3 linked regions of the Homo sapiens genome follow. The protein of the gene in region 1 purifies or fractionates together with the protein of each later gene. This does not show direct contact. Each region holds a gene or a part of one and is shown on either strand. Other genes may lie near its edges. The genes, in order: PHF7, ADNP and PPP1R12A.

Region 1 (3,656 bases):
AAAATCAATTGACCATATATCTGTGGATCTGGATAATCTATTTATGTCATTGATCTATGTATCTATTCTTACACAAGTCCCCACTGTCTTGATTATTGTGGCTTTATAGTATATTGAAATTCAGTATTGTTAAGTTCTACAATCTTTTCCAAGATTGTTTTGACTATCAGGTCCTTTCTTTATAAAGTTTATATTAAGCTTGTCAATTTTTCTTTAAAAAAAAAGTCTACTGGGATTGTGATTGGGATTGCATTGAATTTATAGGTCAATTTGGGAAGAATTGACAAAAAATATTGAACCTTCCAATCCATGGACATGGTATATTTTTCCACTTATTTGGGTCTTTTAAAATATATCTCAGCAATGTTTTGTTGTTTTGGTGACAAAGTCTTGTACATCTTTTGTTAAATGTATTCCTAAATATTCTGTGGTTATGCTATTGTAAATAGTATTTTTATTTCATTTTTAAGTTTATTGCTGGTATATAGAAATGCATTTTATTTTTGTATATTGATTTGTATCCTGTAATCTTGTTAAATTGAGTTTGATTAGTTGTTTTTTTATTTTGTTGTAAATGCCTTGTTACAGGATTCCCTATGCACATAACCATGTCATGTGTGAATAAAGACAGTTCTACTTCTTTCTCTCAATCTTTGCCTTTTATTTCTTCTTGCCTTGTTGTATTGGCTAGGACCTTTAACCTAACATTGAATAGAAGTGGTGTGAGTTGTTATCCTTGTCTTGTTCCCAACATCAGGGGACAGCATCTAGTTTTTCACTATTAAAGTATGTTAGCTCTAGGTTTTTTTCATAGATGTTTTTATCAGGTTGAAGATCCCTTTTATTCATATATAGTTTGCCCAGAGTATCATGAATGGGTGTTGAATTTTCTCACTTTTCCTGTATTTATTGAGATTATCTTGATTTTTCTCTTTAATTTTGTTAATGTAGTTTGTTACATCAACTAAATGCTCTAATGTTAAACTAGTCTTGCATTCTTGGTATAAACTCTACTTGGTCATGATGTATTGTCCTTTTTATATGGTGCTGGATTCAGTTTGCATCTGTTTTGATTTTTATATCTGTGCTCATGAGAAAGATTGGTCTGTGATTTTCCTTTCTTGTAAGTCCTATCAGGTGTCAGGGCTTAGTTATAATTTTGATGTATTTACAAGCATATACATTTTTTACATAAAAATTAAACATTATACAGAGTGCTTTGTATCTTGGCTTTTTTCCATCATATATATTTTGGAAATCTTTCTGTATAGAACATATAGATATAGTTTTTTCTTTTTAGTAGCTAATTTATTAAATCAATACATGCTTATTGCAGAAAACATGAATGATACTTAAAAATATGAAGAAAACAAATCACTCATCCCAAAGCCCTGAGATAATTAGTTTTAAAATATGTGTTTCAAAAGTTCAATTCCTTCCCCCATAATACAGAACAACAACAATCAAGAGATATTAAAACCCTGTTTTTCTTCCTGTATTACTCTGAGAAGAGTATTTTCTCTGTACTAAGAGGTGATGCAGCAGGAAGGGTAAGAATGGGGATTCCATGGGCCTGGGTGTGAATAGCCAGCTCTGCTCCTCCTTGTCCTATAACCCTGGGAGGCAGTGTCACTTGCCACACTGCACCTCAGCGGCCTCCTCTGTAAGATGAGCATCATAATAGCATCTGCCATTACAGGAATTTTTTTTTTTTTTTTTGAGACGGAGTCTTGCTCTGTCGCCCAGGCTAGAGTGCAGTGGCCTGATCTTGGCTCACTTCAACCTCCGCCTCCCGGGTTCAAGCGATTCTCCTGCCTCAGCCTCCCGAGTAGCTGGGATTACAGGCGCGCACCACCATGCCCTAGTTTTTGTATTTTTAGTAGAGACAGGGTTTCACCATGTTGGCCAGGCTGGTCTCGAACTCCTGACCTCAGATGGTCAGCCCTCCTCGGCTTCCCAAAGTGCTAGGATTACAGGTGTGAGCCACCGTGCCTGGCCAAGGATTGTAAGCATAAAATGAGTAAATACAAAGGAAATGTTTCCCCCAAAGTCCCAGCACACAATAGCAGCCCTCAGTAAGTGAGAGGCAGCCTAGAGCAAAAGTAAGAGTCCAGGTTCCAGAGTTCTGTGGCCTTGAGCAGGTCGCATCATCTCTCCTATAAAATGAGGACAATAATAGTACCTACCTCCTAGGGCTGTTGGGAGGACTCAATGAGTTAATATTTGAAACCACTTAGAGTATTCAACACATGGTTGGTGCCATGTAAGCCTTCATTAAATAAATTACCCTGTCAATGCATATATATTCCACCAAGCTCTGTTCTTTTTTTTTTTCTTTTTTGAGACAGAGTCTTGTTCTGTGGCCCAGGCTGGAGTGCAGTGGCACGATCTCGGCTCACTGCAAGCTCCACCCTCTCGGGTTCACGCCATTCTCCTGCCTCAGCCTCCTGAGTAGCTGGGACTACAGGTGCGTGCCACCACACCCGGCTAATTTTTTTGTATTTTTAGTAGAGATGGGGTTTCACCGTGTTAGCCAGGATGGTCTCCATCTCCTGACCTCGTGATCCGCCCGCCTCGGCCTCCCAAAGTGCCGGGATTACAGGCATGAGCCACCACACCCGGCCCAAGCTCTATTCTTTAGCTCTCTTACCCTGTCCTTCTCCTCACCTCACTGCACTGTTTCACTGATCATCATTGTTAACAGCCTGGTTCTACTGCCCCCGCAGATCTTATCTAGTAAGCTGCCTCAGAGGGGCCAGTCCAACAGAGGCTTCCATGGATTTCTGCCTGAAGACATCAAAAAGGAGGCAGCCCGGGCTTCTAGGAAGGTTAGAATCTCTTGAAATGAGGACCTTGGGGTAGGCCTCTTTTCATACCTCACCCATCATTCCTGTTTCTGTTCTCTTCCCTACTTCCTAGTTTAGATGTCAAAGGACTCTTGGATTTTCCAACTAGTCCTTAAGTCCCATATTCCTCTGGGGTATGGGTGTCCTAAGTGAGAAGAGGGAGAAACATCTTGAGAAAATAGGAAAGAACTCAGTGCTGCTTGAAGCTCAGCTTCCGGGTGCCCCAGAGCATTCAGGACCACTGAAGATAGGGAATGGCTATTATTTCACAAAACTTCCATTTAATAGAAAGATGTGCTACACTGTGTGTGTTTGCATTTCTTGGGGTCCTGAGCACTGTCTGGGAACTCATTTGCAGATCTGCTTTGTGTGCAAGAAAAAGGGAGCTGCTATCAACTGCCAGAAGGATCAGTGCCTCAGAAACTTCCATCTGCCTTGTGGCCAAGAAAGGGGTTGCCTTTCACAATTTTTTGGAGAGTACAAGTGAGTGAGGGAAGGGAAAAGTCTGGCTTCCTTTTTGCAACTTATTATTCAGCCACTAATGAAATCAGAGTCCAGTTCTCACAAGCAGGCCTGTTTTGATTCACCAGTGAATCTGTCCCTCCATTCAGTAATAAGAAACAGTGTCTTGACTTGGAGATTTCACAGGGGGTTCTTCTTGCTTCCTGACCCCTCCTTAAATTACAAACAGCTGGGGTTCTTAGACAGCTGCTCAGCACTAAGTGGGGCTTTCAGGAACGAGAGGCTATGGAGACAGTCCTGGGAACTTTGCTCAGTAGGTGAGCAGCCGTGAGAAGGCATGTGGCAGTT
Region 2 (3,656 bases), on another chromosome or scaffold:
TAGCCACATTCCTCAAGGAACCGGTTAGAGCTGGTTGCAGTAGTGGGTTCTGAACACTTATTAACATAAGAAATTACTTACAGCTTTTTTAAGAGAAATTTTTACAGATGCTAATATTGTAATCATTTGCATTCTACACCCCTTTGTATAAAGTATAAGTATTCAGTTACTATTACTTTGATAACCCAATCTCTAGAGTTGCTAAGCTTCTAAAAGCCTTAAATGTCTGATGAAAACATGGTTTTCCATGAACTTGTTCTTGCTACCAAAGATTGACAGTGGTTGATGTTTGTGGGTACCTTTAAGACTTTGTATGTTACATAAATACACCAAGATAAGTTTATGGAGAACTGAATGGGTGTATTCTTTGATACCTAGTTAACCAGTTGGTGCTTAACAGGAGAATTTTTCATTGGAGAATTGCTACCAGGTAACATTTTGGTGAGTGAAAAGGAGGCCCTTTGGTACAGGTATTTGACTAGAGACATTGCTTCTACAATTTCTTAGTCATTGTGAAAAATCACATATTTAAATGGGATTATTTAAATTTTTAAATACTGTATAGTATTTGTAGGCAGGTATAGTTTTTATCTTTATTTGGTGTTTTATATGCAGTTATTTAAGTTCTGAAAATGACCATATAATTTGAAGACAACTTATTTGACGGAATGTTTGAAATGAAGTTTGTTGAGGGGCTTTTGTTTGATTTAGCGAATGGGATACAGTGTTGAATGATGTCCTAAGTGGTAACAGCCATTTTCCCTTAAAGGAAAACTTGCTGTGAGCTCTTAGAAAGCATGTATTCTACTGTTTCAAAGGTTTCTTGGTTTTAACACTCAAAAAATAAGGTGAGGCCAGGTGAGGTGGCTTACGCCTGTAATCCCAAAACTTTGGGAGGCTGAGGCAGGAGAATCACTTGAGGCCAGGAGTTCAAGACCAGCTTGGGCAACATAATGAGACCCTGTCTCTACCAAAAAAAAAAAAAAAGTGAAACAATTGGGCTTGAAGACTGGAATTTATAGTAGGTAAACTATATACTTCATTAAAGTATAGTAAAAGGTTCAATTAACTAGAGTGTGGGGAATGGGTATTCTGTTTAACTGAACTTTAAGTAGAAATTCCTTTTTTATCTTGGCCTTTGTTGAAAAATTTCCTGAGACTAGCTTATTAGGAGCTATATATTGAAACTAACCTCTTTGATTTTGGTTTTTATAGTTCCTGTATAGAAAATATAGGAGATTGGGCTGAAAATCTCTTAATGACCCTTGGCCCTTCCAACCTTGGAAGTCATTGATTTTATACATGCCCACTGTGAATTTGCTTTGCTTTGCTTAAGTTTATCTTTTTCTCCTTATACCAGAGTGCAGGAAGAGTTTTAATACTATTTATATTAAAATAAGAACTTCACAACCTTGAACAGATGGTTTTGGTACCACTTGCAAGTAACCAACCAGTAGGCTTTTATCAGGCAAAAATGGCTTATTATTTATATTTGATTATTAAAAGTATAGGTATATAAGGCATACTATGTGAAGTTGTTGCTTTCCTTGTAACTACTTACACGTTTTGAAAGTATTAAAAAGTTAGTATTTTGAAAACTAAAATACTCAAGTTTATTGATTAAATAAGATGATGCTGGCTACAAATTTTATTTTGAAAATTGCAACTTAATAAGGAAGATAAAGCTGTTTTGTAAAGGAGAAAGTAGAGATTGATACTTCATAGGGTAAAAAAAAGAAAAACTTCAGCATTTATGTTTCTTCTTTTGAGAATCATATATAAGTAACAAAACTGCATAAATTGCAATAGACCTAGGTCACTTGATTTCACAATTGGGTGTGTGTATGTATGTACACATACATATAAAATATATGTAGGTTTTCTAGAGCTGGAAATGATTGTCATATTATTAAATACAGATGAAAAGTTCAAGTATCACGTGTAGTTTGGGGAAAGTACATTTAGTTTTGAGATGTAGTTTGGGGACAATACATCTAAGTGTAGTAAAAAAATACCAGAATTAAACTTTATGTATGTATTTTTTCCAAGTAACCTATTTAAATCTTAGTGAAATAAAGATTTTTAAAGTAATATGAAAGAAAAAAATAGGAAGTTTTTATTTTACAACATTAGAAGCATTATTGTGGTTTACACCAAAGTACCCATGACTGTTGTGTAAATAAGCTACTTGTTCAACCTGGAGTTCCAAAGGAGTTTTTAAAAGAGCATCATAAAGTCAGTTATGTCTTACATAAGGTAAAATAACTTTCAGTGGGAGTTTAACCTTCATTCTCTTGACTGAGAGGCATGTACATTAAGAGAAACATTGCTCCCCTATGTGTAAATAATTTAATTATAGTTGGATTCACAGAGCTTGACTTGTTATTAGCATCGTATAAACTTAAAGTTTTTCCTCCCCTAGTTTTTGTGTGTTGTTTGTTTGTTTGTTTGAGACAGTCTTGCTCTGTCTCCCAGGCTGGGGTGCGGTGGCCCAATGTCGGCTCACTGCAACCTCTGCTTCCCGGGTTCGAGTGATTTTCCTGCCTCAGCCTCTGAGTGGTTGGGATTACAGGTGCCTGCCACAACGCTTGGTTAATTTTTGTATTTTTAGTAGAGATGGGATTTCGCCATGTTGGCCAAGCTGGTCTTGAACTGCTGACCTCAGGTGATCCGCCTGCCTTGGCCTCCCCAGGTGCTGGGATTATAGGCGTGAGCCACCGCTCCCAGCCCCTCTCCTAGTTTTGTAAGAGCTTGTGATAGTAACTGGAGTAAATGCCGTATTTTGCTGATGTACCTCACTGCCAGTTAACACCTTCTATGTTGTTAGTTTGGAAACTCGGTGTTTGAAACTAGTATAAACCAAAGCCCCATGCTAATTAACTGAATTGATACTTTGAATGTAAAAGCTGTTTCTTGTTTTTACTTTGGCACTTTCCACCTTGATTGTTGAGATACTTTATTTGATAAACCGTCCATGCTTTGCCCATTGTGGGTGGCCATTGTGATTTCATGGTTTTTTGTTGTTTGTCTGATCCTGTTTATTAGAAAGTGAGGAGAGGATGATTATGTTCCTTCATCCTCTCAGTGTCTTAGTACTCCCTACACCTGCGTTATGTTATGACCTACCTTTGCGATCTGCCAGTTTTGGGGTCAGCTTAAGTGAGAATTCATATTCTGCTTCACTGGAATGAGAAGGCTCTCCTCACATATTATCATGCTTCTCAAGTTGGTATATATGAGCCAACTTGATTATGTAGTGTGTGTGTGTGTGTGTGTGTGTGTGTATAGGAAGTCACAGATAAAAATTGAGCCAACTGTGGAAAGTGACAGTTTTGATTGCAGGGCACACGTTTTTTTATTCTAATCAATGAAAAATGCAAAATTCATATTACTGTTTTTAGTCCTGGGTCCTGTCATCTCTGTGTATTAATTCAGTCCTCTGCCTTAAGGAGTTCCTTGAGATTTCACTCACAAGCTTTGGTATTATTGATCCCTACCTTGGTTCCAAGACAGCAGCTAGAGAAAGCCTGGAACCTCTCAAGAATTTCAGCAGTGTTCTGGAAATAAAGATTTAGAAAATAAGAGGAAAGCATAGACAACGTTGGATGGAGTTTACAAAGGGAAGCCTGCTCTGAATATATGCCACAGTTTTAGAT
Region 3 (3,656 bases), on another chromosome or scaffold:
TACATAAGACAAATGTAATTTATACAGAATTATAAATACTGGAAAGATCAGATGTATTTGCCTAAAACATAAATTATGGGACTATACTCCGTTAAAGGAATCTATTACCTTACTTGAGAATTTATAATAGAACTGTATTAAGGAGCAGGCTTATTTTGTTTATTATGATTCAAGAAACTTTCTGAAGTTTAAAAAACATAGGAACACATTTATTCTAGAATGTTAGTATACTCATAAGTTACATTTATTCAGTATCTGAAAAAAAATACCAGATTTTTCATCTACCATATTACAAGCAACTTTGTCTTAATGAGTAAATTTAATAACTATTTTGAGAGGTGGTATTAATACTGCATTATATAGGATGTACCACAGTTTATTCAATACTAGTATTTATTTCTACAGCATATTCAGTGCTTGAACTATTTTTTTTGCCCATACAGTTTTCTTTCTATACTTAGAAATGTTTCCTTATATCAGAAATTCAGATGAAATTTCTCATCAAGTAATTCTAATATTTTTGCTTTTTTATCAGTTTACTGTGCAGTTGGTTTCCAGGTATTTTATGCCAGCTTACTAGGAATGTATCAGAGTGTCATTGTCACTACACACTCTTAGCCATATTTGGATAAATATAATTTAAATAATATTTGTTTTGACTATTTTGATGTATTTGAGAGCATTGATTATCAAGGTTCTAAATAGCTTATATAATATAAATGCTTGAGACCTCTCAGTGAACAATATTTGAAAGTTTATTTCTCTGGAAGAAATAAAGATATTTCAGCTTATGACACAGTATTAATCTGTTAGAGAAGTTTTAGAAAAAGTCATTAAAATCTGGAGAAATTTTTTTCCTTTCTTAGTAAAATATTATCTGATTCCAGGCTAAAAGAGAAAGAAAACTAATTTGAACAGGCTGATTATTGATTGACATTAATTTTAGAGTTCAGCTAGGAATTGTTGAAATACTGTAAACTATGATAGCTATGTAATTATAATTATTGAATAACCTTTTCTTAATACTTTTAGCATTGCCTATAGTCAGTACCCAAATTAATTTTTACTTATTTTTTTCCCTGTTGTGTAGGAGAAAGATAGTAAAGGAACTAGGCTTGCATATGTTGCACCTACAATACCAAGACGACTAGCCAGTACATCTGACATTGAAGAGAAAGAAAACAGGTGAGTTTATTTTGATTTGCTTTATGCATTCACTATAAAATCTTTATTATCTAGCATTAGAGTTAATACATGAGCATTGTAATTATGTGCGGATATGTATTGTGGGAAGAGATGGAGGATATTCCTGAAGGAGAAAATACCAGGTACATAGTCCTGAGGAGGTGCAGGCTTGGTATGTTCATGAAATAATAGCAAAGAAGATGTGGCTGGAACAGAGTAAGGGGAAAGTGGGAGGAGATAAGGTCATGAACTAGTATGAGTTCTCTAAATATTTGGAACATTTAGGAAAGGGGAAAGAAGAAGGAAAGCCCTTACTTAATCATTTTAGTTTGTTTTAAATATTTTTGTTTAAATATTGTTTAAATATTTTAGTTTCTTCCTGTTTTTCAGCTTATAGAATTTTATTTTTTTAATTTAATTATTTTTATTTTTATTTTTATTTTTTTTGAGACAGAGTCTCGCTCTGTCACCCACGCTGGAGTGCAGTGGCGCAATCTCGGCTCACTGCAACCTCCACCTCTCAGGTTCAAGTAGTTCTCTGCCTCAGCCTCTCAAGTGGCTGGGATTACAGGCACCTGCCACCCTGCTCAGCTAATTTTTTTATTTTTAGTAGAGACAGGGTTTCACCATCTTGGCCAGGCTGGTCTTGAACTCTTGACCTTGTGATCCACCTGTCTCGGCCTCTCAAAGTGCTGGGTTACAGGTGTGAACCACTGCACCCGGCCAATAACTTTTTAATATACTTTTAATCATGTTATAATATCTAATTTTTTTATTTTTTTCCCCTAAGATCTCATAAGCAGTCTTCTATGTTAATATATATTTTTAATAAGCATTTTTTTTGTCGGCACATAACATACTATAAAGTAGATCTTCTGCGGTTAAAGTAAGCATCTCCCCTACTTTATATTTTGTGATCAAAAAGCATATTTCTATAAATATCTGAATTTTCCCCCATACTTAGGGGAAAAATTATACCTTAGGGTATATAATCTTAGTACTGAAATTACTTTATCTTCTTGATTAGTATTCCTAAGTGTCCTCCCAAAGGTTTTTACTAGTTTCAGCTTATACTAATATTTACTAGTGTACCGCTTTCTTAATCCTATTTTAAAATTATGTACCAGAATCTGAAGGGTGTTCTTTTAACAGAGATTCTTCAAGTTTGCGAACAAGTAGTTCATATACAAGGAGAAAATGGGAAGATGATCTTAAAAAAAATAGCTCAGTTAATGAAGGATCAACGTATCATAAAAGGTAATAATACTATTCTTAAGCGGTTTTTATGTATTCATTTATAAAAATATGAGGCAATTTGTTTGGAGCCCTCAGTTTAACATCATTTTAAACAAATATGTGTTTTTATTAAATACGAGTTTTTGTTGTTTAAAACTTACTCTAAACACAGGATATATATTTAAAGATAGGTGATAATTTGTTATGCCTATTATATAATTAAGCTTCAAATATTATGAAATGTTTTTTGGATTGTTACATATTTAAAAGGAACTCCTTTAGAAGGAACTCCTTGACTAGAACAACTTAAACAGGCCAGTGTCTTAATGGATCTAGTTGTCATTGTTGATCTGGAAAGATTTGGCTTGCCCTAGAACTCAGAGCTATGGAAATGCCTTCAGTTGGAATGTTGGTAGTATCATATTGAAGAGGAAAAAAAAGCCCTATAAACAATTTCTTTACTAAAAGCAACCAAAAAGAATAAGATGTGAACAAGTATCATGTAGGCATTGGTTACTTCCGAGGTATCTGACCCATTGCTGAAATAATTTCCTTCAAAAAAATGTCAACGTCTTGTTTTCCCTGGGTAATACAAAACCAAAGTGTGTTTTTCAGGCTCAGCCTGGCATGACCATATGGTGTGGAATAGTTTCAAAAATATGAAATATCAGATCATCTTTGTCTTGTTGAGAAAGTTGGGAGGAGGCACTAAAATGATACACTACCGAATTAAGTGAAATCTTCTAAACTCTAGCAAGTTGTAGATGCAACTCTTGGTGCTGGAGCTGGTGGTGTATTTAGGAACACAGTTTTTAAATTTTTTTTCTAGCCTTGTAATTTATATAATGTATAGACATTAACTATAGAATACACATACAAACACATCCTATATAGATATGACTCTTTTGTTTAGTTGCTCCTTTGGTAGAAGACAAGATGATTTGATTAGTTCTAGTGTTCCAAGCACCACATCAACACCAACAGTTACCTCTGCAGCTGGGCTTCAGAAAAGCCTGCTTTCCAGCACAAGCACTACTACAAAGATTACAACGGGTTCTTCCTCAGCAGGCACACAAAGCAGGTAAGTCACAGATACATTTTGTGCTCAGGTCTACTGTGTGCTTATGTATGTGCATGCGTTTTTGTTTAGAAGATTGTGGGGCTCTGGATTTTTTCATTTATCTTGTTAAATTTATTTGCAGACAAAAATTGGTTCCAAAATGAGGCAATTATGC

Evidence for each region.
Region 2: the proteins of PHF7 (region 1) and ADNP purify together in Homo sapiens (affinity purification with mass spectrometry, with the first as the bait; one large-scale study listed by BioGRID). This does not show direct contact.
Region 3: the proteins of PHF7 (region 1) and PPP1R12A purify together in Homo sapiens (affinity purification with mass spectrometry; 3 studies listed by BioGRID and IntAct, with this or other methods). This does not show direct contact.

What each region holds. Positions count from the first base shown.
Region 1 is NC_000003.12:52,417,107-52,420,762, forward strand, and holds part of PHF7 (E3 ubiquitin-protein ligase PHF7), read left to right. Parts: intron 1-2,726; coding exon 2,727-2,828; intron 2,829-3,204; coding exon 3,205-3,329; intron 3,330-3,656.
Region 2 is NC_000020.11:50,924,892-50,928,547, reverse strand, and holds part of ADNP (activity-dependent neuroprotector homeobox protein), read left to right. Parts: intron 1-3,656.
Region 3 is NC_000012.12:79,806,012-79,809,667, reverse strand, and holds part of PPP1R12A (protein phosphatase 1 regulatory subunit 12A), read left to right. Parts: intron 1-1,090; coding exon 1,091-1,185; intron 1,186-2,337; coding exon 2,338-2,442; intron 2,443-3,334; coding exon 3,335-3,502; intron 3,503-3,656. UniProt on the Homo sapiens protein: Key regulator of protein phosphatase 1C (PPP1C). Mediates binding to myosin. As part of the PPP1C complex, involved in dephosphorylation of PLK1. Capable of inhibiting HIF1AN-dependent suppression of HIF1A activity.